Linked DNA regions of Homo sapiens: regions 2, 3, 4 and 5 are each linked to region 1. The links come from fine-mapping of genetic effects on gene expression. A gene starts in region 1. Each other region holds a variant in brackets. All regions are shown on one strand. Distances are between the middles of the regions.

Region 1 (5,099 bases):
TAGCTAGGGCTACAGGTATGTGCCACTAGTTCCAGCTAGAGTTTTTTTTTTTTTTTTTTTTTTTTTTTTTTTTTTTTTTTTTGAGAGGGAGTCTTACACTGTCGTCCGGGCTGGAGTGCAGTGGTATGATCTTGGCTCACTGCAACCTCCGCCTCCAGGGTTCAAACGATTCTCCTGCCTCAGCCTCAGTAGCTGGGACTACAGGCGCACAACCGCCATGACCAAATAATTTTTTGTATTTTAGTGGAGACGGGGTTTCATCTTGTTGCCCAGGCTGGTCTTGAACTCCTGAGCTCAGGTAATCCGCCCGCCTCGGCCTCCCGAAGTGTTGGGATTATAGGCGTGAGCCACCGCGCCCGGCCTTTTTTTATTTTTTATTTTTTGAGACAGCATCTTGCTCTTGCCCTGTTGCCCAGGCTGAGGCCAGAGATTTTGTTAAATAATGTACACTGTGCCCGGTTCAGGAGCATTAGTTTTATTAGGCTGCATGAAATGTATCCACTTAAGACTTTACCAGGCTGGGTGCGGTGGCTCATGCCTGTAACCCTAGCACTTTGGGAGTCTGAGGCGGGTGGATCACCTGAGGTCAGGCGTTCGAGTCCAGCCTGACCAATATGGCGAAACCCCGTCTCTACTAAAAAATAAAAAATTAGCCCGGCGTAGTGGCGTGTGCCTGTAGTCCCAGCTGCTCGGGAGGCTTAGGCAGCAGAATCGCTTGAACCCGGGAGACGGAGGTTGCAGTAAGCCGAGATCGTGCCACTCCACTCCAGCCTGGCGACAGAGCAAGACTCTGTCTCAAAAAGACAAAAAAAAAAAAAAAAAAAAAAAGACAAAGAAAAAAAAAAGAGAGAGAGAGCTTGTTAGATCTTAGTGCTATATTTCCTTGATTATTTTTATTTTAAGGCTGACAAAATGCCATTTAAGATAATAAAAGTAGTTAAATTGCCTGACCAAGAGCTAGATAACATTGAGGAAAAAGTATTGGCAATATTCTTTGGTCTAATACTGCTATATACCAACCATTTTACCCAATCATTCAAATAGGCTTAGTAATACAAGGGCGAAAAAGGAAAACTACAGCTAATAGTGCTATCCTTGTTCTTTTTTTTTTTTGAGACGGAGTCTCGCTCTGTCGCCCAGGCTGGAGTGCAGCGGTGCAATCTCGGTTCACTGCAAGCTCCGCCTCCCCGGTTCACGCCATTCTCCTGTCTCAGCCTCCCGAGGAGCTGGGACTACAGGCACCCGCCACCACGCCCGGCTGATTTTTTTTTTTTTTTTTTTTTTTTTTTGTATTTTTAGTAGAGATGGGGTTTCACCGTGTTAGCCAGGATGGTCTCTCTCTCCTGACCTGGTGATCCACCCGCCTCGGCCTCCCAAAGCGCTGAGATTACAGGCGTGAGCCACCGCGCCCGGCCTATCCTTGTTCTATATACTGATTACGCATACTATATATGGACCTTTTCCTTCCTCAACCTTTCTATAGATTTCTAAGAATAAGGTTTTGATGAAGTAGTTTATGTATCCTTCTTTTTCAGTTAATCCTAATGGAAAACGGTTGGAAAAATGAAACAATTATCTTACAACTTATTTTTCTCTTTCCTCTCCTCCCCTCTCTCTAAAAGAGTGTGGCTCCTTCCCCTCTCTTTTCCCCTTCCTCTCTCTAGAGTGGTTAACTCTCAAACTGTATTTAACTCTGGAAAAGTTTTCAATTACACAGGCGATAACTCCAACTTGAGGTATAACGGAAACTTATTAAGAGAAAAAGAGCAAAATAATTTTTTTTTGAGACTCAGCAAAATAATTTTTTTTTTTTTGAGACGGAGTCTCCGTCTGTCGCCCAGGATGGAGTGCAGTGGCGCGATCTTGGCTCACTGCAACCTCCGCCTCCCGGGTTGGAACAATTCTCCTGCCTCAGCCTTACGAGTAGCTGGGATTACAGGTGTCCGCCACCACTCCCGGCTAATTTTTGTATTTTCAGTAGAGACGGGGTTTCGCCATGTTGTCCAGGCTGGTCTTGAACTCCTGACCTCAGGTGATCCAACCACCTCGGCGTCCCGGAGTGCTGGGATTACAGGCGCGCGCTACCAAGCACAGCTAATTTTTTTTTTTTTTTTTGAGACGGAGTCTCGCTCTGTCTCCCAGGCTGGAGTGCAGTGGTGCGATCTTGGCTCAATGCAACCTCCACCTCCCGGGTTGGAACAATTCTCTTGCCTCAGCCTTCCGAGTAGCTGGAATTACAGGTGTCCGCCACCACGCCCGTCTAATTTTTTATATTTTTAGTAGAGACGAGGTTTCATCATATTGGCCAGACTGGTCTTGAACTCCTGAACTCCAGTGATCCACCCACCTTGGGCTGCCAAAGTGTTGGGATTAGAGGCTTGAGCCACAGCGCCGGGCCTTCAGGGGTATCGATTTTGTTCCCGTGCCTCTTGTGTGTGTTCTAGTGTGGAAGTGGAGGCGATTGCTTTCCAGCACAAGCCCGTTTGACTGTCGGGGTTTGGACAAGTGGCTGCGACGACACTAAGGTGGAGACCGGGATGTAGCGAGGACTCCCAGAGTTGGGAGACGTTGTACGCTTACTGGGACCTAAATCCCGCACGAGTTCCCACCCAAGTGCCGCCGCCCCAGCCTACGCACGCGCATTCGCACCGTCTCCAGCCCCGGGGTCCTCCTGCCCCTCCCGCCGTCTCCGGGGGCCTTTTCTCCGCTCGGCACCAGGGTGTCCCCGGCGCCGCCTGATCCTGTTAGCGCGGTACTCTGAGTGCAGTCAGTCCTCGGCGCTGTTTTCCCTGATTTGCTGTCGACGCCAGGAAGGAAGGACGCGTGCAGAGGACCGCAGAGGGGTGGCCGTGGCTGAGAGGAGACAGCGCCGCAGCACTGAGGGTTTGGGCTTGCAGGCGCTGCAGGAGACGCCCAGGCGGAGTCTTGTCTCGCAGCCAGCTCTGAGCGGGAGGCCTGAGCGGGAAGCATTGGCGTCCGAGCGACTTCTAGGAGCCTGGGGTTCGGCGCTATGGAGGAGCTCGATGGCGAGCCAACAGTCACTGTAAGGGTACCCCGAACAGGCTTGCTCGTCCTTGCGGGTTGAGAACTGCGTCTGCTTAGTTACTTCAGGCTTGTCTGCTTCCCTAGTGGTCGCGAGGCGCTCGTCCCCTTCCCTCGACTCAGTTGCCACTTTTCCGGAGGTCGCAGTGTTAACGAGGTGCCCGCCCTAGGGTCGCAGTGGTCGCGGGGTTTCTGCCACCAGTCACAAACCCCGGCCTCGAAGGTCCCACTCCGTCCCTTTCCTTCCTTTGTGTTCCTGGCCTTTTTACTTCCCTTGCTTTTCCTCTTGGGCATTAGAGTGGGTTCAGCCCAAGCAGAGGAATTTATATTTTTATTCCAGCCGTATTAAGCTCTGCATCGCGGCACATTGAGCTTCTGCCTGTGTGGCCTAAGGTTTATTCAACGTATTATCTCAGGAGACTATTCCTGTTTTATCGCTGTGCATTCAATTCCATTTGAACTTTGAAGACAGTATGTCAACTGTGGATGATCTGTGATGTGTATAAAAAAAATTCACGCGCTTTATGTACGAGATACCTACCGTTTCTGCTAGTTGGATTGCTCTTGTTTTCCCTCTTGTTAACCAGAAGTGACTGAGGCAGGTCTCAACCGATAAAGGTTTAATTAGCTAAGGTTGAGGATCCAACCGGGAAAAAGCACAGGTCACAGGAGGATCTGAGACCTGTGCTTTTTCCAAAGATGGTTTTGGGAACATCACTAGTTAAAGAGGAAGGAGCTAGCAGGAGGGGCAAAAAAGGGAGGTTAGGCAGTGAGGAGGCAAATGATTACATTCTTGTGAGTCGGTGATTAGCCTCAGTAAATCTGCATTTTACCTGTGAAAAGAGGGAGCAGAGGAAAATTTTATGTATGCATTCATCTCAGGGTAGGTAGAGGGATTATGGTTATTATTACTGTTATTTTTTAGACGGAGTCTCGCTCTGTCTCCCAGGCTGGAGTGCAGTGGCGCGGTCTCGGCTCACTGTAACCTCCGCCTCCCGGGTTCACACCATTCTCCTGCCTCAGCCTCCTGAGTAGCTGGGACTACAGGTGCCCGCCACCACGCCCGGCTAATTTTTTGTACTTTTTTGTATTTTTAGTAGAGACGGGGTTTCACCGTGTTGGCCAGGATGGTCTCAATCTCCTGACCTCGTGATCCGCCCACCTCGGCCTCCCAAAGTGCTGGGATTACAGGCGTGAGCCACCGCACCCGGCCGATTTCTGGTCTTTTACTTGTGAAGATAAGCTGGTAGTTGACATTGTCAGAATCAACAGATCTTGATTTTAGGACTAGTTTATAGGGGCGATGTGTATCCTGAAAATTTTAGAGGCTCACAAGGAATTTCCTTGTGAGCAATTTGTGAGGGAAGCTCTCTGGGGAGATATGTGGCCTTCTTTTTTTTTTCTCTTGAGGCGGAGTTTCCCTCTTGTCGCCCAGGCTAGAGTGCAGTGGTGCGGTCTCGGCTCTCTGCAACCTCCGCCTCCCAGGTTCAAGCAATTCTCCTGCCTCAGCCTCCTGAGTAGCTGGGATTGCAGGCATGTGCCACCATGCCCGGCTAATTTTGTATTTTTTTAGTAGAGACGAGGTTTCTCCATGTTGGTCAGGCTGGTCTGGAACTCCTGACCTCAGGTGATCTGCCGGCCTCAGTCTCCCAAAGTGCTGGGATTACAAGTGTGAGCCACTGCGCCTGGCCTCATTCTTTTTTTGAGACGGATTCTCACTCTGTCACCCAGAGTGGAGTGCAGTGGCGTGATCTCAGCTCACTGCAACCTCTGGCTCCTGGGTTCAAGCGATTCTTCTGCCTCAGTCTCCTGAGTAGCTGAGATTACAGGTGCGTGCCACCACACCCAGCTAATTTTTGTATTTTTGGTAGAGATGGGGTTTCACCATCTTGGTCAGGCTGGTCTCCAAAGCCTGACCTCGTGATCAGCCTGCCTCGGCCTCCCAAAGTGCTGGGATTACAGGCATGAGCCACCGCGCTTGGCTAGGAGTTCGAGATCAACCTGGCCAACATGGTGAAACCCCATCTCTACTAAAAAAATACAAAAATTAGCCTGGT
Region 2 (5,099 bases), 74 kb before region 1:
CCCCTACCTGGGGCTCACGGGCAGGGGAGGTGGGAGGAGGCCCGGGGCTACAGCATCCAGACTCTTCCTTGCTCTCCCACAGGAGGCCTGTGCAACCTGTGCCCAGACAGGGCCAACAAGGAGCACATCCTGCACGCAGGAGGTGTCCCACTCATCATCAACTGCCTATCCAGCCCCAATGAGGAGACGGTGCTGTCTGCCATCACCACGCTCATGCACCTGAGCCCGCCGGGCCGCAGCTTTCTCCCAGAGCTGACCGCCACGCCCGTGGTGCAGTGCATGCTTCGCTTCTCCCTCTCGGCCAGCGCCAGGCTCCGGAACCTGGCACAGATCTTCCTGGAGGACTTCTGCTCCCCCCGCCAGGTGGCCGAGGCCCGCAGCCGGCAGGCGCACTCTGCCCTGGGTATCCCACTGCCGAGGAGCGTGGCCCCACGGCAGCGCTGATCCATGGAGACTGCGAGACCGTGGCACCCCTACTGCTGGAGACCACAGTCCTGATGTGGACGCAGGGAACGGGGAGCACATACTGCCCCATTGGTGCCTTTTCAGCCATCTGAAAGGCGGGTTCTTTCAGCAGGACAGGCATTTACACTGATGAAACGCCACTGGGAGTGAGGAAGCCAGACTCCAGAGACACGGAGAAGATCAAACTGGAGCTGCGTTCATAGGCTGGCACTCTCAATCCTACATCAGGTGCCACCACCACCAGACTCAGGCCCTGGTGTAAGAAGCGGCCAAGTGCCTGGACCCAGAGGCTTTGCAGGACAGTGTTCTCAGGAGCTGGGCCTGAGGCTTAGGAGAGCTGCCTTCGCTGCAGGAAATCAGGGATTATCCCTTAACAGAAGTGTCTGGAGTAGTTTTCAGGTATAGGAATGAGATGCCTCGTGGTGAAAGGATCTCACCCTGGGAAGATGTGGTGCCCCCTCCAGGGCTCTGGAGGATGGATGCCTCCCCCAGGGGCTCTCCAAGCTGGGCATTTGGGCCTGGTGGATGCCAACCTGGATAACCTGTGGCCCAGCATTGACTGTCCACCCAGCCTTGCTGTTAGGCACCATGACTCCAAGATGAAGATGTGGTCCCTGCCCTTGAGTGACAGCCCAGGGACTTAATGTGGCCATCGGGCATCAAGCACAAGGCCATGCAGGTGATGATACGTCGGAATAGAGGCACCAGCCCTGGTAACTGCATCTTCTCCCCTTGCCACCCCATGGCCCCGGCTGAAAGCTTCGGCCCTCCTCTGCTGTCACTCAATGATGGGGAGCCCTACCCCAGAAGTGTATCCCACGAGGGCATCAGGGACGCAGTGAGTGTTGCTCAAGGGAGTCAGGAAGAGACGGCAACGTAAAGGATGTGGCTCCATGTCCATGGTGCCCCCTGGTCAACATAAGGAGCGTGGGATCCGATGGAAAGGTGGAGCTCAGGGAAAATGGGGGTCCTTGCCTCTCGTGTACCCCCTCAAGGCTGACCCCTTAGATGGCCCAGGAATGGCAGGTGCTACAAAAATGGTACCCACGTGGGCATGGAAATGGGGCAGATTAGGGGACCACTGGACTCAGAGGGGAGGGAAGGGCTCATCAGCACCCGCTCAGGGAGCCTGTCCCTTTATGTTCCCAAATAAAGGGTCCTAGAAGACTAGAAAGCCAAGGTCTTTTATTAAAGGTCCCGACTGGTTTTCCCACTGTATTTCCATGCCAGCCAGGGTCCAGGGACAGCCTCTCGGGAGGTACCGGGTGGCTGGGCCTGGGGCCCGGTAGCACAGCGCTTAACGGTATCTGCCTGCTCCACTCCACGGGGCCAGAGGCACCAGCACGATGCCGCCCCGACTCGGCTCTGCGGTGGCCCCTGTGGGCCTGCCCTTCCTTTAGCTCCAGCTGCTGCCCGCGGCATCCCCGCTCATTCCCGCTGCGCAGCTCCGCGCTTGCTATCTAAGATCTCCCTCCAGTTGTCACTCCAGGAGAGCAGCCGTCTCCTTGTCGGGGGCAGGACCAGGTGCCGATTGTGGCAGCAGGTGAACAAGATGTGCTCCCAGCTTGGGGTCTCCTCCTGGCCTAGGACAGTGAAAGACAGCGCGCTGCCATCTGTCATGGGTATTATTACTCCCTCTCCCTAATCCGGGCAGGCCAGAGGCCTGGAGGCTGCCAAGGATAACGGGTCCAACCTCGAACTGTGTCCTTGTCATCAATGAGCAGGTCCCCCAAGACCACCGTCTTGTCCCTTGTCAGGATAATTCGTTCTACGAACTGGGGCCCCAGGTGCTGCTCCACCCAGCGGTACTGTGTAGAAAACACAGTCTGTGAGTAGGGCCTGATGGAAGCCGGAATTCAGGGATAGGGACTTGGCTCTAAGCCCTTGAGAGCCCCCCACCCCCACCTTCTGGGTTTCTGGTGGTTTCTTTTTAAAATCAGGATTTAGGCAGCTCCACGTGCGGAGTAGGGGCGGGGCAGCCACACCTTCTCACCCACACAGTGGTGGTACTTCAGCAGGGGGCTGGTGCAGATGAAGACCTGCGTGCTGCGGAGAAGGACGCGGTTACCGCCGGGAGCCAGGAGCCCGCCCAGGACTCCGCCCGCCCCCCTCTCTCCTTACTCCGGTAGGTCGTTCATCTCCCGCACAGCGTCCAAGGCTCCCGGGATGGGCTCCAGGTCCAGGAAAAAGCCCGGGGCTTCGTACACACTGGCCACTTTATCCTGAAAGACAAGAGTTCTGGGTCCCGGCTTCCCGTTCCCGCGAGGACCCGCAGGGAGGCTCCTGGGGGCTCCGGGCCCGAGCTCAGAGGGGCGGAGGGGGCGTCGGTCAGGGGCACGCGCCCAAAGGCTCCTCCCCAGGGTGCGCTGCCCGCGGGTTCCAGGGTGAGAGCTCTGCGCCCTTCACAGAGAAGGGGGAGACCCCCGGAACGGAGCGAGCGGGCCCTGCCCGGGTGGGGACCCTGCGCCCCCTACCGCCAGGTCGGGCCGCAGGGCGCGGTACTGCTCGCGGGCCAGGAAGCCGCGGCGTTGCTCCAGCGGCACGTGCGGCTCCTCAGGGAAGCGGCGGCGGAAGCCCCGCAGGAGGCCGGCCTCGAAGTCGGCCAGGACGCCGTCCATGTCCACCAGCACGCGCACGCTCCGCGCCATCGCCGCCGGGCCGGAGCTGCGAGCTCTCGGGGTCTGGGGGGCG[C/T]GGGCTCGGCCGGAAGCGGAGGGAGCGCTGCTTCCGGAGTCCGCCGGGCTGATTTGCATAGAGTGTCCGGGCCGCCCCGCCCAGGTCGTAAACCAGTGCCGACGGCCCTGCGGTTGCGCGAGGCCATCCTAGGGTTCGGGTGCAGGGACGGCTTTGGGGGGCACTTTTCTGACCCTGCGCTTCTTCGGGACCCAGCCTTTGTCCCCATCAGCCGCCTCCCACTTTACGGCAGACGTACCCCCGTTCACCCCACGTTACTAGTAGGGGACCGACCTTCCGGGGGCCCAACAAAGGGATGCTCTGAAATACTGGGAAGCATCTAACGAGGAGTCAAGGGTCCTAAACCCGTGGGGCTAGCTCCACATTTTTTTTCTTTTTTTCTTTTTTTTTTTTTTTATTTTGAGACGGAGTCTGGCTCTGTCGCCCAGGCTGCGGCGCAGTGGCGGCGCGATCTCGGCTCACTGCAGCCTCCGCTTCCCGGGTTCAACCGATTCTCTTGCTTCAGCCTCCCGAGTAGCTGGGATTACAGGCACCCGCCACCACGCCTGGCTAATTTTTGTAGTTTTAGTAGAGACGGGGTTTCGCCATGTTGGTCAGGCTGGTTTCAAACTCCTGACCTCAAGTGATCTGCCTGCCTTGGCCTCCCAAAGTGTTGGGATTATAGGCTTGAGCCACCGCACCTGGCCAAAGTCTTATTACCGCAGTACCGTGGTCTCAGTGGATTGCTTTCGTCTGTGCAGTGGAGCAGGAACAATCCCTCGAGGACTACAAAGTGAAATGAATCTGTTAACTGGTTTGTGTAAGTCTAGCTCGTTAAGAGACTAATTCACACTAGAGTTGGCTTGAAACATGGGAGCTTCAAGTGTGGTTTCCCCCGGAAAGATGATTTTGATCAAGCACAGGTAATCAGGACTGTCCTCAGGACTTTATGTGGAACTGACATCGCTTACCTACTCCCGTCTAGAAAATGCTGAACAGGGCCAGGTGCGGTGGCTCACGCCTATAATCCCAGCACTTTGGGAGGCCGTGGCGGGCGGATCATCTGAGGTCGGGAGTTCAAGACCAGCCTGACCAACATGGAGAAATCCTGTCGCTACTAAAAATACAAAATTAGCGTGGTGGCACATGCTTGTAATCCCAGCTACCCGGGAGGCTGAGGCAGGAGAATCTCTTGAATCCAGGAGGCAGAGGTTGCGGTGAGCCGAGATCATGCCATTGCCCTCCAGCCTGGGCAGCAAGAACAAAACTCCTTCTCAAAAAAAAAAAAAAAAAAAAAGAACATGCTGAACTGTGATACATTTTGTTGACTCTTCTTTTTGTGGATGTCATGAAACTTCCTGACTCCACTCAAATCTATTTGCCTACAAACTATAAAGCCAGGCGCCGTGGCTCAGGCTGGTAATCCCAGCACTTTGGGAGGCCCAGGTGGGAGACAGCTTGAGCCCAGGAGTTCAAGACCAGCCTGAGCAACACAGGGAGACCCTGTCTCTACAATAAACAAATCAATAAGCTGGGTATGGTGGCGCATGCCTGTGGTCCTAGCTACTCATGAGCCTTAGGTGGGAGGAACCCTTGAGCCCAGGAAATTGAGGCTACACAGCCTTCATCCTGCCACTGCACTCCAGCCTGGGTGACAGAGGGAGTCCCTGTTGGGGGAGGGGAGAGCCAAAATTATAAACACAGATTTAAGTGGCCCATCTCGCCATTGTTCCCCATCTGATGAACCCACTGCTTCCAAATATATGTAACAGAGGCTGGGCACGGTAGCTCACGCCTGTAATCCCAGCACTTTGGGAGGCTGAGGCGGGCGGATCATGAGGTCAGGAGATCAGGACCATCCTGGCTAACACGGTGAAACCCTGTCTCTACTAAAAATACAAAAAAAAAAAAAAAATTAGCTGGGCATGGTGGCGGGTGACTGTAGTCCCAGCTACTCAGGAGGC
Region 3 (5,099 bases), 21 kb after region 1:
TTGTTTTGTTTTGTTTTTTTGAGATGGAGTCTCACTCTGTCATCCAGGCTGGAGTGCAGTGGCACAATCTCAGCTCACTGCAACCTCCGCCGCCCAGATTCAAGCGATTCTCCTGCCTTAGCCTCCCAAGTAGCTGGGACTACAGGCGCCTGCCACCACGCCTGGCTAATTTTTTGTATTTTTAGTAGAGATGGGGTTTCACCATGTTAACCAGGATGGTCTCGATCTTCTGACTTTGTGATCTGCCCGTCTTGGCCTCCCAAAGTGCTGGGATTACAGCTGTGAGCCACCACGCCCAGCCCTGTATTACCAGTTTTAATCTGAATCCACTGGTGAATGGGACGATTTTGCTTTTGTTTCTTGGCCAGGAATTGCATGATCCTGGACATTTTGTGAGAAGATGGTGGGAGAAATAATCAACAGCACACACCATGATGGTGGAGAAGGGGTGGGGGGAAGCAGGTAGAGGAACATGTTTTTCTGTTTCTTTCATTTTTGAAAAGCTGGGGCTGAGCGTGGTGGCTCACGCCTGTAATCCCAACACTTTGGGAGGCCGAGGCGGGGAATCACTTGAGGTCAGGAGTTCGAGACCAGCCTGGCCAATATGGTGAAACCCCATCTTTACTAAAAACACAAAAATTAGCTGGGCGTGATGGCATGCGCCTGTAATCTCAGCTACTCGGGAGGTTGAGACAGGAGAATCGCTTGAACCCGGGAAGTGGAGGTTGCAGTGAGCCGAGATTATGCCATTGCACTCCAGCCTGGGCAACAAGAGGGGAACTCTGGAAAAAAAAAAAAAAAAGGTGGTCACAGGCTATAATGGACTACAGCTGGCTGTTTGAAAAACATAGTGGAGGTGACAAAGCCATGAGATTGGATGTGATAGATTACTTCTGGAGGGAAAGAGCCATCATTCTTCCCAGGGCAGACTCAGGTGCAGAAAGAAGCCTGTGTGTGAAGAGTTAAAAAGCCAAAGTGTGGGGTGAGGGGACTGGCCTCCTCACGCCTCGGCAGGGCCAGGCCTCCTGCCAATGCTTATGGGCCCGGATCTCCTCCCAGGTGACCATCTTGGTGCTGCAGGGCCGGCTGGATGAGGCCCGACAGATGCTCTCCAAGGAAGCCGATGCCAGCCCCGCCTCTGCAGGCATATGCCGAATCATGGGGGACCTGATGAGGACAATGCCCATTCTTAGTGTACGTGGGGGTAGCTTTGCTCTGCTGGGTCACAGGAGATGCGTGATTCACTAAATATAAAGGGTGTGGATGGGATGACGTCTCATGGCTGGTCTCTCCCTTAGCCCGGGAACACCCAGACACTGACAGAGCTGGAGCTGAAGTGGCAGCACTGGCACGAGGAATGTGAGCGGTACCTCCAGGACAGCACATTCGCCACCAGCCCTCACCTGGAGTCTCTCTTGAAGGTCTGGGAAGCAGTTCAGATTGCATCCATGTTGGCTTCCTATGGGGGCTGTGGCATCCAGTGCAGCAGTGGCAGGAGCTTGGTCCTCCTTGGATAGGGCTGTCTGTCGCTCTGCCGTGATGGCGAGAGCTTTCAGACTAGTTGAAATCCGGTGCCCTTAGCTGAGAGCAGGAGCATTATGGAGAAGGTACCCCTGAGAGGAGGACAGAGTTCAGCACAAATGTCTCTCCTCAGATTATGCTGGGAGACGAAGCTGCCTTGTTAGAGCAGAAGGAACTTCTGAGTAATTGGTATCATTTCCTAGTGACTCGGCTCTTGTACTCCAATCCCACAGTAAAACCCATTGATCTGCACTACTATGCCCAGGTGAGTGAGCTCGGGGTGGGCAAGGGTGGGGGTAGGAGTCCTGGGGGCGCCCTGATGGGTCATTCTCTTTGAATTCCTCCCTGAGGAACAGGAAGACCCTTTCCTTTGGCCCTTAGTGAAAGAACAAGGCACCTTCTCTGGGGTTCGTTATACAGCAGCCCTGCCTGCCCCGAGTCTCTGCTTCCGTCCTCAGGATTGAGTGTCTCATCACCTTTCCACAGTCCAGCCTGGACCTGTTTCTGGGAGGTGAGAGCAGCCCAGAACCCCTGGACAACATCTTGTTGGCAGCCTTTGAGTTTGACATCCATCAAGTAATCAAAGAGTGCAGGTAGGATCTCTCCCACCCCCCACTGTAACCATTTTTAGGTGTACAAATATCACCACCTTGCGTTTCTAGAGTGGCCTGTTCCTTCCTTACCCTTCTTCCCTCAGACCTGCTATCTTAGTCCATCTCACGCTGATATTACAGAATACCTGAGACCAGATAATTTATAAAGAAAAAGATTATTTTCTCACCGTTCTGGAGGCTAGGAAGTCCAGGATCAGGGCACTGGCAATGTTGCTGGTGAGGGCTGCTCTCTGCTTCCAACATGGCACCTTGAACACTGTGTTCTCATGTGGTGGAAGGGCAAGAAGGACAAACTCCCTTCATCAAGTCGCTTTATAAGGGCACCCAATCACATTCATGAGGGAGGATGTGGCCTAATCACCTCCTGGCCTAATCACCTCTTAGAGGCCCTACCTCTTAATACTATCACATTGGCAAAACTGGGGTTTTAGAGGGGATCCCTTCAAACCATAGCATCTGCTCCCCTGCTTGACTTGCCACAGGTAGATAATGGCTTTTCTCTGGGTGAGCTTAGGGACTTCCTGGAGGCTTGAGGGCTACCATATACATAACTGTTTCCATTTCAGGGATGTTCATTTAAAATAACATCGC[G/A]GGAAACTACTTTGACATTTAAAATCTAGAAAAAGCCAGCAAGCCTGTTTCTTGGCACCTAATGGACACCTTATGGGATGGCGTGTTCCAAGAGTCTCACTCCAGTGACGTGAGCTACCGAACCACTGGGCTTCAGGCTGGGTATTATTCAGAATTTCCAGCCCTCTATCCAAAAGAGGGTGTTCTATGATTGCACTGAATCTTTAGCAAGGCAGGAAAGGGAGTGCCAAACATAATCAATCAAAGGTAAACCTTTCCAGAACTCTCCATATATGGTAAGTCAGAAAGAAGGTCCCCTTCCTTGTTGTGCACCCTGGATGGTGGGCATTGCACTGAAGACGTGCTGGGAAGGGAGGAAGTGGGTAATGGCAGAAGATGGCCTTGATCAGGTGTCAGATTCACTGACCTCAACTGGCTGTTTGTAGATCTGGGCATGGGAAGAGTTTCCTTCGCCCTACCTGCTTTTCTTGTTTTGGCCAAAAGAATGCCAGGGCTTCAAGAAAATGATACTAGATTTGGGGAATGAAAAACAAGTTTTTTGTGTGTTTGTTTCTGGGTTTTTTTTTTTTTTTTTTTTTTTTTTGAGACAGAGTTTTGCTCTTGTCACCCAGACTGGAGTGCAGTGGCGTGATCTTGGCTCACTGCAACCTCCACCTACTGGGTTCCAGCAATTCTACTGCCTCAGTCTCCCAAGTAGCTGGGATTACAGGTGTCCGTCACCACGCCCAGCAAATTTTTGTGTTTTTCAATAGAGACAGGGTTTCACCATGTTGCCTAGGCAGGCTGGTCTGGAACTCCTGACCTCAGGTCATCTGCCCATCTCGGCCTCCCAAAGTGCTGGGATTACAGGCGTGAGCCACCGCGCCCTGCCAAGTTTTTTTTTTTTGAAACAGGGTCTCACTTTGTCACCCGGGCTGGAGTGCAGTGGAGTGATCTCAGCTCACTGCAGCCTTGACCTCCTGGGTTCAAGTGATCCTCTTGCCTCAGCCTTCCAGGTAGCTAGGACTACAAGTGTGCGCCACCATGCCTGGCTAATTATTATTTTTTTTTTTGGAGAGATGAGGTTTCACTATGTTGCCCAAGCTGTTCTTGAACTTGTGAGCTCAAGCGATCTGCCTGTCTTGGCCTCCCACAGTGCTAGGATTACAGGCGTAAGCCACCATGCCCGGCCTGAAAGTCAAGTTTTGTGTCAATATTTTCACAGGCCTGTAAACATTGTGAGAAGTCCCTGCATGGAAGAATTAGTGAGAATAACTTAAAAACACACAAACACACCATCGTTTGGCTTTGTTGGTGTCTCTGCCCATAGTTGAGTATTCTAAATTTCCTGTGTTATAACAGTGAGTGAGTTTCACCAGGGCTTCCTAATTTATAAGCCCTGTATCTGGATTTTTAGGAATAAAACAGATTTGAGCAGAAGAAGTCTGTTGGATGCAGGGAGTATAAAAGGGGAAAGCATCCTGCTGTTTCCAGTGGCAGAAGAGAAAGAGAAGTACCATGAAGAGGGGTGAACAACATCACTCTCGTGCCGGACACAGACAAGGAATGATTAGGCTTGCAGTCCCCCAGTCTCAGCCTCTCTCCACTCTCACAAGCAGGAAGGGATCTGAGCTCTGTTAGTGGGAAATCTTGGAGTTTGCATTTCTCTGATCACGAGGCTACCTCCTATCCTGTTTTGAAAGAGGAACAGAAAAGCAGAGCTTGTCCCAGGAATTGTGAAATGGGCTGCAATGTCTTCAGAGGCAGTAGCAGTTTTAGGAAGTGTGCCCTCCTGGCTCTGGGGAAAGGTTGAATTGGGGTCTTGTGGGCACTTGTTTTCTCATGGGATGTATCAGTCAGACCCATGCACAGTTCTGGGCGGCAGGGAAGTGTGTCTCTTTCTGGACTTGAGCCAGTGAGCTGTTGGCATGCCTTTTTAAAGGCATTAGAAAAAAGGTTTCTTTCTTTTTTTTCCTTTCCTGTTCACACCACCTTCATATGAACATGGAGAAGGGAGGTTTCTAAGTGGGCCCCTGATTTACTCCTATGTCAATAATCGTGCCAGACCCTAAGGGGCAGAAAAGGCAGCCAGGGGATCCTGACTCAGAGGCTGTAGTTCGTCAGCCCTGCTAAAGGGCCAGGGGTTTGTCTCTCAGTGCCTGGGTGGGCATGCTTGACTGCTAACCCCTTAGCTGAAAGGAGATGGCAGGAGTCCTCCACAGGGTCCCTTCTTCCCTCCTGGCTTACAGCTTCCTCTGAAGACGGGCCAGTTCCTTGCTGTCTGGCAAGAGGAAACAGCTGGGGTGCACTTCACTGGGAGTTGGGCAAGATGTCGGCAGTTTCCTGGTGCCCTTCAAGTCCTCCAAAAGTATCGAGCTAAAAGGTGACAAGTCT
Region 4 (5,099 bases), 130 kb before region 1:
TTGAGGCCAGGAGTTCAAGACCAGGATGGGCAACATAGGCCCCATCTATAAAATTTTTTTTTTAATTAGCCAGGCGTGGTGACACATGCCTGTAGTTCCAGCTACTCAGGAGGCTGAGGTGGGAGGATCACTTGAGCCAAGGATTTCAAAGCTGCAGTGAGCTGTGCCCTCTAGCCTGAGAGACAGAGTGAGACACTGTCTCTCTTTTTTTTTTTTTGAGACGGAGTTTCACTCTTGTTGCCCAGGCTGGAGTGCAATGGTATCATCTAGGCTCACTGCAACCTCCGCCTCCCAGGTTCAAGCGATTCTCCTGCCTCAGCCTCCCGAGTAGCTGGGATTACAGGCGTGTGCCACCACATCCAGCTAATTTTTGTATTTTTAGTAGAGACAATGTTTTACCATGTTGGCCAGGATGGTTTGATCTCCTGACCTCGTGATCCACCCGGCTCGGCCTCCCAAAGTGCTGGGATTACAGGCGTGAGCCACTATGCCCAGCCAGAACCTGTCTCTTAAAAAAAAAAAAAAAAATTGGCCAGTTACCATGGCCCACACCTGTAATCCCAGCACTTTGGGAGGCTGAGGTGAGAGGATTGCTTGAGGCCAGGAGTTCAAGACCATCTTGGGCAACATAGCAAGACCTGTCTCTACAAAAGAAAAAAATTTTTGTTAATTACTCCTAATTCGGTTGGTGTAATACACAACACCTAGTTGGTGACGGGCAGCTCAGGCCACAGGGTCACTTGATGTCCCATGAACTAGGTGTTCCATCTCGGTCAGGGCCCAGTGAAATAGTTACTTGCAAAAGAGGACATGGACCTGCCCAGAACCCTGGAGTTCTGCATGGCCACAGTCCAGTTGGGACTTGCAGGAGGCTCTGATACAGCATCTGTACTGGCAGGAGATAATTTCAGTATCACTGGATCTCCCCAGCCATAAAGCCCAGGTGGCAGCACAGAGCTAAATTTTTAATAAGAGTCATACCACACAGAAAGATTTTCATCAGTAAAGCTTTCCCCTGGAGTAAACTGTTACTCCATGAAGCCAGATTAATTCCTTGATCAATTTTCTATACAGGGCAATTAAATTGCTTCTAAGTTTTATATTTTCATTTTAATTTTTACTTAAATACTTTCATTAAGATCATGGTTTTCCTAGAATCTTTCTGAACTTACTCTGATTCAGAGGACTGCCCAATTAAAAAAAAAAAAAGACTGGGGCCGGGCGTGGTGGCTCACGCCTGTAATCCCAGCACTTTGGGAAGGCAAGGTGGGCAGATCACCTGAGGTCAGGAGTTCGAGACAAGCCCAGCCAATATGGTGAAACCCCGTCTCTACTAAAATACAAAAATGAGCCAGGCATGGCGGCAGGTGCCTGTAATTCCAGCTACTCAGGAGGCAGAGGCAGGAGAATCACTTGAACCCGGGAGGTGGAGGTTGTAGTGAGCCAAGATCACGCCACTGCACTCCAACCTGGGCAACAGAGTGAGACTCTGTCTCAAAAACAAATAAATAAATAAAAATAAAATATCGGCCAGATGTGGTAGCTCATTTGTGTAATCCCAGCCCTTTGGGAGGCCGGGGCAGGTGGATCGTATTCGAGGCTGCAGGGAGCTATGATTGTGCCACTGTACTCCAGCCTGGGCAACAGAGTGAGAAACCCTGTCTCAAAAAAAGAAAAAAATATATGCTTGGCCAGGAGAGGTGGCTCATACCTATAAACCCAGGTACTTGGGAGGCTGAGGTGAAAGGATTGCTTGAGCCTGGAAGGTCAAGGCTTGCTTGCTTGCTTGCTTGCTTGCCTGCCTGCCTGCCTGCCTGCCTTCCTTCTTTCTTTCTTTCGAGGCTGAGGTAAAAGGATTGCTTGAGCCTGGGTGGTTGAGGCCTTTCTTTCTTTCTTTCTTTCTTTCTTTCTTTCTTTCTTTCTTCTTTCTTCCTTCCTTTCTTTCTTTCTGTTTCTTTCTTTCTTTCTTTCTCTTTCTTTCTTTCTCTCTTTCTTTCTTTCCTTCTCTCTCTTTCTCTCTTTTTTTTTTGATGGAGTCTTGCTCTGTTGCCCAGGCTGGAGTGCAGTGGCACCATCTTGGCCCATTGCAACCTCCACCTCCAAGGTTCAAGCGATTCCCCTGCCTCAGCCTCCCGAGGTAGCTGGGATTACAAGCGCCCGCCACCACACCCGGCTAATTTTTGTATTTTTAGTAGAGACGGGTTTTTGCCATGTGGGCCAGGCTGGTCTCAAACTCCTGACCTTAGG[T/C]GATCCACCTGCCTCGGCTTCCCAAAGTGCTGGGATTACAGGCCTGAGCCACTGTGCCCAGCCGTGTGAGGGTATTTTCAACCGTCCGTCTGTCAGCTCTTAGGACACATTCCCAGAAGAATAGAAAGATAGTTTATGTAGAAATACATGTGAAGTGTCATTAGTGGAAAAAAAATTTTTTTAAACAAAGTATGTAACCATATTTAGCTGTATAAGAGAAATTTATTTGTGCACACAGTATAAAGTTAATTTTTCTTTTTTTTTGAGACAGAGTTTCACACTTGTTGCCCAGGCTGGAGTGCAATGGCACTATCTCGGCTCACTGCAACCTCCACATCCTGGGTTCAAGTGATTCTCCTGCCTCAGCCTCCTGAGTACCTTGGATACAGACATGTGCCACCATGCCTGCCTAATTTTGTATTTTTAGTAGAGACAGGGTTTCACCATGTTGGTCAGGCTGGTCTCGAACACCTAACCTCATGTGATCGCCCACCTTGGCCTCCCAACGTGCTGGGATTACAGGCCTGAGCCATCGCATCCAGCCTAAAGTTAATTTTTTCAAGGATTTAAATACATCTTTTGTAAGGTTTTTAAAATAAAGGCAGATTGAGTCAAGTTTATTGAAACTTTACATGGAGGGAAAGAATATGCTAATTTGACATTTTAGAGAAGTTTAAATGCAAGCGTTTGTTGTCCCAGCTTAGAGATTGGTGGGTGAGGTCTGTGTGTGTCATTTTCATGTTCCAAAACGGTGAGCTTTATCTTATGTTATTTTTGGTGGATGTTGACTTAGTTCATGAATGTTGTCACTTCTAAATGTGGACAGTTGGGCTGGAAGATAACACAGCCTCTTCCGGAGCCTAGTAATCCCTGCCAAGCCCCCATCAGTCATATTTCTAAATGAAGACATTATTTTGTTCACATTTCCTTGGAAGAAAATTAAGCAGCTATTAAAGTCATGGTCACCAGGGTCATGTTGTGGCATAAAAAGTACTAGTGAGTTAAATAAGGATTCAGAATTGTATGTATGAAACCTCTATCAACATATCAAAATCCAAGCGCATCACTTTAGGTTGTGTGACTCTCCCCCTTTCCTCCATTTTCCTTTCTTTTTTTTTTGAGATGGAGTTTCTCTCTTGTCGCCCAATCTGGAGTGTAATGGCACGACCTCAACTCATTGCAACCTCTGCCTCCTGGGTTCAAGCAATTCTCCTGCCTCAACTTCCCAAGTAGCTGGGATTACAGGCACCTGCCACTTCGCCCAGCTAATTTTTGTATTTTTTGTAGAGACGGGGTTTCACCATGTTGGCCAGGCTAATTTTGAACTCCTGACCTCAGGTGATCTGCCTGCCTCAGCCTCCCAAAGTGCTGGGATTACAGGCGTGAGCACTGGTGCCAGGTCGCCTCCATTTTCAAATTGTGTTTAAGGCTGGGAGCCGTGATTCACACCCGTAATCCCAGCATTTTGGAAGGCCGAGGCAGGCAGATCATTCGAGGCCAGGAGTTCAAGACGAGTCTGGCCAACATGGTGAAACCCCGTCTCTACTAAAATATACCAAAAAAAATAAAATTAGCCAGACGTGGTGCCGCACGCTTGTAATCACAGCTACTCAAGTAGCTGAGGCATGAGAATCAAGAATCGCTTGATCCGGGAGGCAGAGGTTGAAGTGAGCCAAGACTGCACCACTGCACTCCAGCCTGGGCAACAGAGTGAGACTCTGTCTCAAAAAAAAAAAAACCAAATTGTGTTTAATATACTGTATATATATATATATACATATTTATTTATTTATTTATTTATTTATTTATTTATTTATTTATTTTGAGTCTCTGGATGGCAGTAACTCAGTCTCAGCTCACTGTAACCTCCACCTGTCAGGTTCAAGCAATCCTCCTGCCTCAGCCTCCCAATTAGCTGGGATTACAAGCATGCACCACCACGCCCGGCCTATATATATATATACTTTTTTTTTTTTGAGATGGAGTCTTGCTCTGTCGCCCAGGCTGGTGTGCAATGGGGTGATCTTGGCTCACTGCAACCTCTGCCTCCCAGGTTCAAGCTATTCTCCTGCCTCAGCCTCCTGAGTACCTGGGATTACAGGCGCGCGCCACCACACCCAGCTAATTTTTGTATTTTTAGTAGAGACGGGGTTTCACCGTGTTGGCCAGGATGGTCTCGATCTCCTGACCTCAAGTGATCTGCCCCCCTGGGCCTCTCAAAGTGCTGGGATTTACAGGCGTGAGCCACCTCACCCGGCTGACACTTTTTTCATTGCAAGATTTTGTAGCCTCAGCTACTCAGGAGGCTGAGGTGGGAAGATGGCTTAAGCTGGGAATATGGCTTCAGCCAGGGAGGCAGACAGAGGTTGCAGTGAGCTGAGATTGCACCACTGTGCTCCAGCCTGGGGGACAAAGCGAGACACTGCCTTAAAAAAAAAAAAAAGACTTTGTCAGTGAAGGAAGGACTACATTGATTTACAACCTGGCATGAGCTTCTTATGTTGCTAAGAGCCAGCAGTGGTTCATGGACAGCACTTGGAATTGCACTGTTGTGTAATATAACAATGAAAATCCCCGTTGCTGGGATAGGTGGAGACTAAAGGCTTATGTGGGACTTGGGCCTGGCAGCACTGCCGCAGGGCGCCCACACGGCTGTATACCTGCTATGCCCCTTCTGGCCCTGCTGCCTCCTGAGCTCTCCAAGGCCCTTTCCTGTGGCCTGAAACCCTATGATCATCACTGTTAGGAGCAAATAACCTGATTCCTTCGAATTAGAGACAGGCTCTCAGGGAGTGGGAGCAGCCCTCCAAGCAGAGGGCTAGGCCGTGGGCCATCCAGCACTGCACCCTCAT
Region 5 (5,099 bases), 830 kb before region 1:
TACCCACTCATCTGCTGAAATATCTTAGCTAAAGAAAATCCTTTTTGAAATTCTGAGTTTCTTTCCTAACAATTCCCACCACAGGTTTGATGTGCTGTTTGATCTTACGGTCTATCATTTGTCCTTTGTTAATATCTGAGGATGGTTATTGCTCACATGTCTTTCATTTCTTCCCAAGGGTATATATGATTTTTGCTGTTTGGAAGTTGGTTGACAAATTGTTTTCTGGACTCTATTAGTTTTCAAGGGCTGCATTAAAAAAATACCGCAGACTGGGTGGCTTAAACAACATATGAGTTTTTGTTTGTTTGTTTGTTTGTTTTTGAGATGGAGTCTTACTCTGTCGCCCAGGCTGGAGTGCAGTGGCACAATCTCGGCTCGCTGCAACCTCCACCTCCTGGGTTCAAGTGATCCTGCTGCCTCAGCTTCCCAAGTAGCTAGGACTACAGGCATGCATTACCACGTCTGGCTAATTTTTGTATTTTCAGTAGAGACAGGGTTTCGCATGTTGGCCAGGCTGGTCTCGAACTCCTGACCTCAAGTGATTCACCTGCTTCAGCCTCCCAAAGTGCTGGGATTATAGGCGTGAGCCACCCTGCCTGGCCAGAAATGTGTTTTCTTACAGTTCTGGAGGCTGGAAGTTCAAAACAATGTATTGACCAAATGTAGTGGCTCACACCTATAATCCCAGCACTTTTGAAGGCTGAGGCAGGGGGATCACTTGAGCCCAGGAGTTCAAGACCAGGCTAAACAGCATAGGAAGACCCTGTCTCTACCAAAAATACAAAAACAGCTGGATGTAGTGGAGGATCACCTGAGCCTAGGAGGTCGAGGCTGCAGTGAGCCAAGACCACGCCACTGCACCCCAGCCTGGATGACAGAGTAAAGGGCGACCTTGTCTGAAAAGGAAAAGAAGAAGGTGTTAGCAGCTTGGGTTTCTTCTGAGGCCTCTCTCCTTGCCCTGCAGAAGGTCACCTTCTCCCTGTGTCCCCAGTACCTCAAAATGGGACGGCATTTGAAGATAGGGCCTTGAAAGAGGTGATGAAGTTCAAACGAGGCTGTTACGATGGGCTCTCATCCAACCTGGGGAAGGTCTTCAACATATGAATTTGGGTTGGGGGAAACTATGGGTATTTTAAGGACAAATGTTCCTTGGCTGTGGATCCAGGCTTTAATAAAAGTCACTTTTCTCTTGGCTGTATACGAACTATCCCCACCTTTCTCTTCTCCTTGGCTGGCGTAACAGGACTCAAAGCCAGTCTCGTATCTTTAAACATGATCTCTCCTTTCTTCCTGGAAGATCTTGAAGTTTTTGAAGATTCACCCTTGTTGAACAGGTACCTGGAGGTGGGCCTTTTAATTTCCACACTGAGAGTATCTTTTCATTCAGAAAAGGTTATTTTCTTTCTCGTTCGTTTCCTTCCTTCCTTCCTTTCCTCCCTCCCTCCCTCCCTCCTTCCTTCCTTCCTCTCTTTCTTTCTTTCTGAGTGGGGGTTGCACCATGTTGCCCAGGCTGCTCCTGAATTTCTGGGCTCAAGTGATGTGTCTGCCTCGGCCTCCCAAAGTGCTGGAATTACAGGCCTCTTTTCCTTTTAGGAAACAGGGTCTCGCTCTGCCACCCAGGCTGGAGTGCAGTGGCACGACCACGGCTCACTGCAGCCTCAACCTCCCAGGCTCAAGCAATTCTCTGGCCTCAGCCTCCCAAGTAGCTGGGACCACAGGCATGCACCACCATGCCTCGCTAATTTTTTGTTTGTTTGTTTGTAGAGACGAGGTCTCCCTATGTTGCCCATGCTGGTCTCCAACTCCTAAGCTCAGGCGATCCTCCTGCATCAGCCTCCCAAAGTGCTGGGATTACAGGTGTGAGCCACGGCACTGGCCTTCTTGACTTTCTTAATCACAATTGGGTTTCGGGCCCCCTTTTCCCTCGGCCACTCTTATGTGCTCTCTGGCGGGGTGTCCTGCTGCCACTGGCACCTTTCCTGGCTTCCTCATTGCTCAGACCTCAAACAGCTCTTTCCCTCTGTGTTGGGTTTCCCAGTCGCTCCGGTTTGCAGTGCTATCACTGCACACTCCCCCTTAGCAGCACGTTTCTTTCTTTTTTCTTTTTTTTATGAGATGGAGTCTTGCTCTGTCGCCAAGGCTGGAGTGCAGTGGCGCGATCTCGATCTCAGCTCACTGCAACCTCCGCCTCCTGGGTTCAAGCTATTCTCCTGCCTCAGCCTCCCGAGTAGCTGGGATTACAGGTGCGTGCCAGCACACCCAGCTGATTGTTGTATTTTTAGTAGAGACAGGGGTTTCACTGTGTTGGCCAGGCTGGTCTCGAACTCC[C/T]GACCTCAGGTGATCTGCCCGCCTCGGCCTCCCAAAGTGCTGGGATTACAGGCGTGAGCCACCGCGCCCGGCCTGAGCAGCACATTTCTTTTTGTCTCTGGAATGGATATCAACGCAACCAGGTTGCTTCCGGGGCATGGTCTCAGGCCCCACCACACACGCAGCCTCTGCCCCTCTCTCTGACTCCCATGCTCACTTTGGTCCTCCCCCATGAGTGCTCTGCTCCTCTTCCCCTTCCCCTCTTTTTTTCAGTCCGAAAGAGGAGGCATGCTGGCTGGATAAAAGGGAGCCACATCTGTCGCTTCTGCTCTGGGATCTTTCATGGGAGCTCCAGTCCACAGACATGAGTGTCCCTCGATTCTGACAAGGTGACAAGGCTCCCTTCCTGTCACCATGCCCGGGCCGAGGAGGTGGCTTTACCAGTGGTGGGGTGGGTGACATGATGGGGACGGGGAGACAAGCTTCCAGAGGGATCGTGCAGAATCCATTCAGCACCCTGGCCCAGAAAGCAAGACCATATTTTCCAAATTAAGCATTTAGCCAGCTGGGCACAGTGGTTCAGGCCTATAACCCTAGCACTTTGGAGGCAAGGCAGGAGAATGACTTGAGACCAGGTGTTCGAGAGCAGCCTGGGCAACGTGGCGAAACCCTGTCTCCACCAAAAATAAAAATAAAAAAAATTTAGCCGGGCATGGTGGTGGGCACCTGTAATCCCAGCTGCTCAGGAGGCTAAGGTGGAAGGATCACTTGAGCCCAGGAGTTTGAGGCTGCAGCGAGCTGAGATCACACCACTGCACTCCAGCCTGGACGACAGAGCCAGACACTGTCTCAAAAAAAAAAGAAAACATTGAGCACTTTGGTTGGCCAGATTACAGAGGTGCTGGCTGGCAGGGACCAAGGGACAGCCCTTGGCATGGGGGTGTCTTGGAAATCTTGCTTCCCTGGCCTCCTTGTCGCTGGGGGTGGCCTGAGCTCCCTGGCGGGTTTTCTGCCCACCTCCTCCTTTTGCATGTCCCTGTCAGCTCAGACAGCAGGGGGCGCTGCAGGACTGGCTGGACGGTCGGGCCAGGGAGTGGGAGGGCGGGCCTTTAAGCCAAGGTTCAAAGGAAGATCGAGTTACTGCAAAGAAACTGCCTGCCCTGGGCCAGCAGCCAGCACCGAGTAGTTGGGTGGGAGGGCTTTGTACCCTCTGTCAGTCTCCTCCACCCTAAAGCCACGTCTGCCACGCTGGGGCTGGCCAGCCACGGGGCTGCAGGGCCCTGCAATTTTCTCAGATGACTTTGGTGGTTTCCTGTGCAGAGTGGTGTGAAGGGCCCTTTCATCGTTCATCGCCCTCCTCTCTCCACTCTCCTTCGCAGGGTCCTGCCAGCCCCTCCTGCTGGCCTCGGGTTCTGCTCACCTGCCTTCCCCACTCTGGGGAGCTTGGCCTGCCAGGCTGCGGAGCCTCAGGGCTTCAGTCAGCGTCTCTGGGATCCCAGGACCCCGTCCTCCCAGCCTGGCGTGAGGGGCCGAGTCCTCCCATCCCCCAGCTGAGCCTGGGCAGGACTTGGGTACCCCCACTTCCCACTGCTCCTTCCAGCCTGCCCTCTCTCCACGGTGCTGGAGGTGAAAGAGTTAATCACATCTGTGGCGGCTCCTTCCAGGACTCCTCCAAGATATATATTTAGCAGGCGGGGCGGGGTGGGGCGGGAGAGGCGTGCCAAGATGCCCTGGCACCGCAGCCCCTGCCTTACCACACCGCTCTTCGGAGGGAGGGGCAGGCAGGCAGTGCCACAGGAGCCGGGTAGGATGGAGGAAGGGACCCATCTAGATGGAGGGAAGGGGCAGGTACGGGAGTTGGCTTTAAGTGGCTTTAACCACAGCCTAGGGAAGGCTGCGGTCTCAGAGAGGACTTTGAGGCCCTGTGTGTGGGGTTGGGGGAGGAGCTTGCTCTGTATCCATGAAAGAAGGGCCCAGTGACTCTGTCTCCCAGGGATGTCGAAGGATTGTGGAAAAGGGCTGGAAACAGCTTAACGGTGAAGGTGATGGGGCAGGGCTGGCTAGAAGAGCTTCTACCACCTATTGAAATGGCTGGGACCCCTGACCAGGGAGCACCGTGGGAGCATAGCCCTGGCCAGTCCAGGTGACCACCCTCTCAGAGCTGTGCTTTCATTCTGGGACAGCAGCTCTGGTGTGGCCAGTGGAGACAAGGGCAGACAGGTTTTTCTATGTCCTCCTTAGAGATTATTTCCAAGGACTCTGCCCTCAGGGAGAGCAATGTATTCAGTAGGTAACCACTAGGCGGGACTGGTTGCTAAGGGCTGTATTTTGACTCTAAGTGGGGAAACCTGTGATTCACCTTATTCCAATTCCTCCAAGTACCTGGGACCTCTGGAGGTTCAGTTCACAAGGAAGACGTTTGGTTTGCTCGCTTGCTTTTTTAACGGGAGTGTCTGTACCCTTCCCTAGGTCCCAAGAATAACTCTGCAGATCTTGGCTTCCCAGCCTCAGGATTGTCCCCAGGGACCAGGACAAAGGGCTTGGTCCTATTGGCTTGTCTCCATGGCGCCTCCCTTCTTCTTCTTCCCAGGTGAATGGATCAGCTCAGTTAGACCCAAGAGAGCCTCATGCTTGTCCTAGACCTCATTTTCCCGACCCAGTGGCATTCCAGCCACACCTGCTGAGGCCTTGGGTACCTGCGCATCAGAGTAGCAGCTCCTCCAGCTGGCAGAGAAAGACTTGATTTGCCACAGTTAGCGCGGCCCACTGTGGAAGCAATCCAGGGTTCG

The links. PIP is the estimated chance that this variant, and not a neighbour inherited with it, causes the effect.
Region 2: its variant is fine-mapped to the expression of NUP85 in lymphoblastoid cells (GTEx, PIP above 0.99). The same link has a PIP of 0.9 or more in tibial artery and tibial nerve.
Region 3: its variant is fine-mapped to the expression of NUP85 in blood mononuclear cells (TOPMed, PIP above 0.99). The same link has a PIP of 0.9 or more in T cells, lung and whole blood.
Region 4: its variant is fine-mapped to the expression of NUP85 in cerebellar hemisphere (GTEx, PIP above 0.99).
Region 5: its variant is fine-mapped to the expression of NUP85 in whole blood (GTEx, PIP 0.98).

What each region holds. Positions count from the first base shown.
Region 1 is chr17:75,202,752-75,207,850 of GRCh38, forward strand. It overlaps NUP85 (nucleoporin 85), which reads left to right and starts at 2,928. Exons shown (of 19, transcript NM_024844.5): 1 at 2,928-3,043. The coding sequence starts at 3,011. RefSeq lists enhancers at 1,733-2,667, 2,668-3,601, 2,760-2,939, 5,027-5,099.
Region 2 is chr17:75,128,595-75,133,693 of GRCh38, forward strand. ARMC7 (armadillo repeat containing 7) reads left to right here. Exons shown (of 3, transcript NM_024585.4): 3 at 83-1,678. The coding sequence ends at 444. NT5C (5', 3'-nucleotidase, cytosolic) reads right to left here and starts at 3,148. Exons shown (of 5, transcript NM_014595.3): 1 at 2,940-3,148; 2 at 2,587-2,687; 3 at 2,451-2,511; 4 at 2,159-2,273; 5 at 1,634-2,048. The coding sequence starts at 3,113. The coding sequence ends at 1,894. RefSeq lists an enhancer at 2,041-2,130 and silencers at 2,167-2,371, 2,741-3,310. The variant C/T (reference allele first, on the strand shown) is at 3,157.
Region 3 is chr17:75,224,044-75,229,142 of GRCh38, forward strand. It overlaps NUP85 (nucleoporin 85), which reads left to right. Exons shown (of 19, transcript NM_024844.5): 8 at 1,060-1,194; 9 at 1,299-1,421; 10 at 1,655-1,786; 11 at 2,008-2,114. Among named protein-coding and RNA genes, the nearest start is that of NUP85, 21 kb to the left of the region's middle. RefSeq lists enhancers at 647-1,148, 1,412-2,611. The variant G/A (reference allele first, on the strand shown) is at 2,727.
Region 4 is chr17:75,069,071-75,074,169 of GRCh38, forward strand. No RefSeq gene overlaps it. Among named protein-coding and RNA genes, the nearest start is that of SLC16A5, 16 kb to the right of the region's middle. The variant T/C (reference allele first, on the strand shown) is at 2,248.
Region 5 is chr17:74,376,227-74,381,325 of GRCh38, forward strand. LOC124904055 (a long non-coding RNA gene) reads left to right here and starts at 4,028. Exons shown (of 2, transcript XR_007065898.1): 1 at 4,028-4,114; 2 at 4,780-5,099. RefSeq lists a silencer at 3,290-3,389. The variant C/T (reference allele first, on the strand shown) is at 2,332.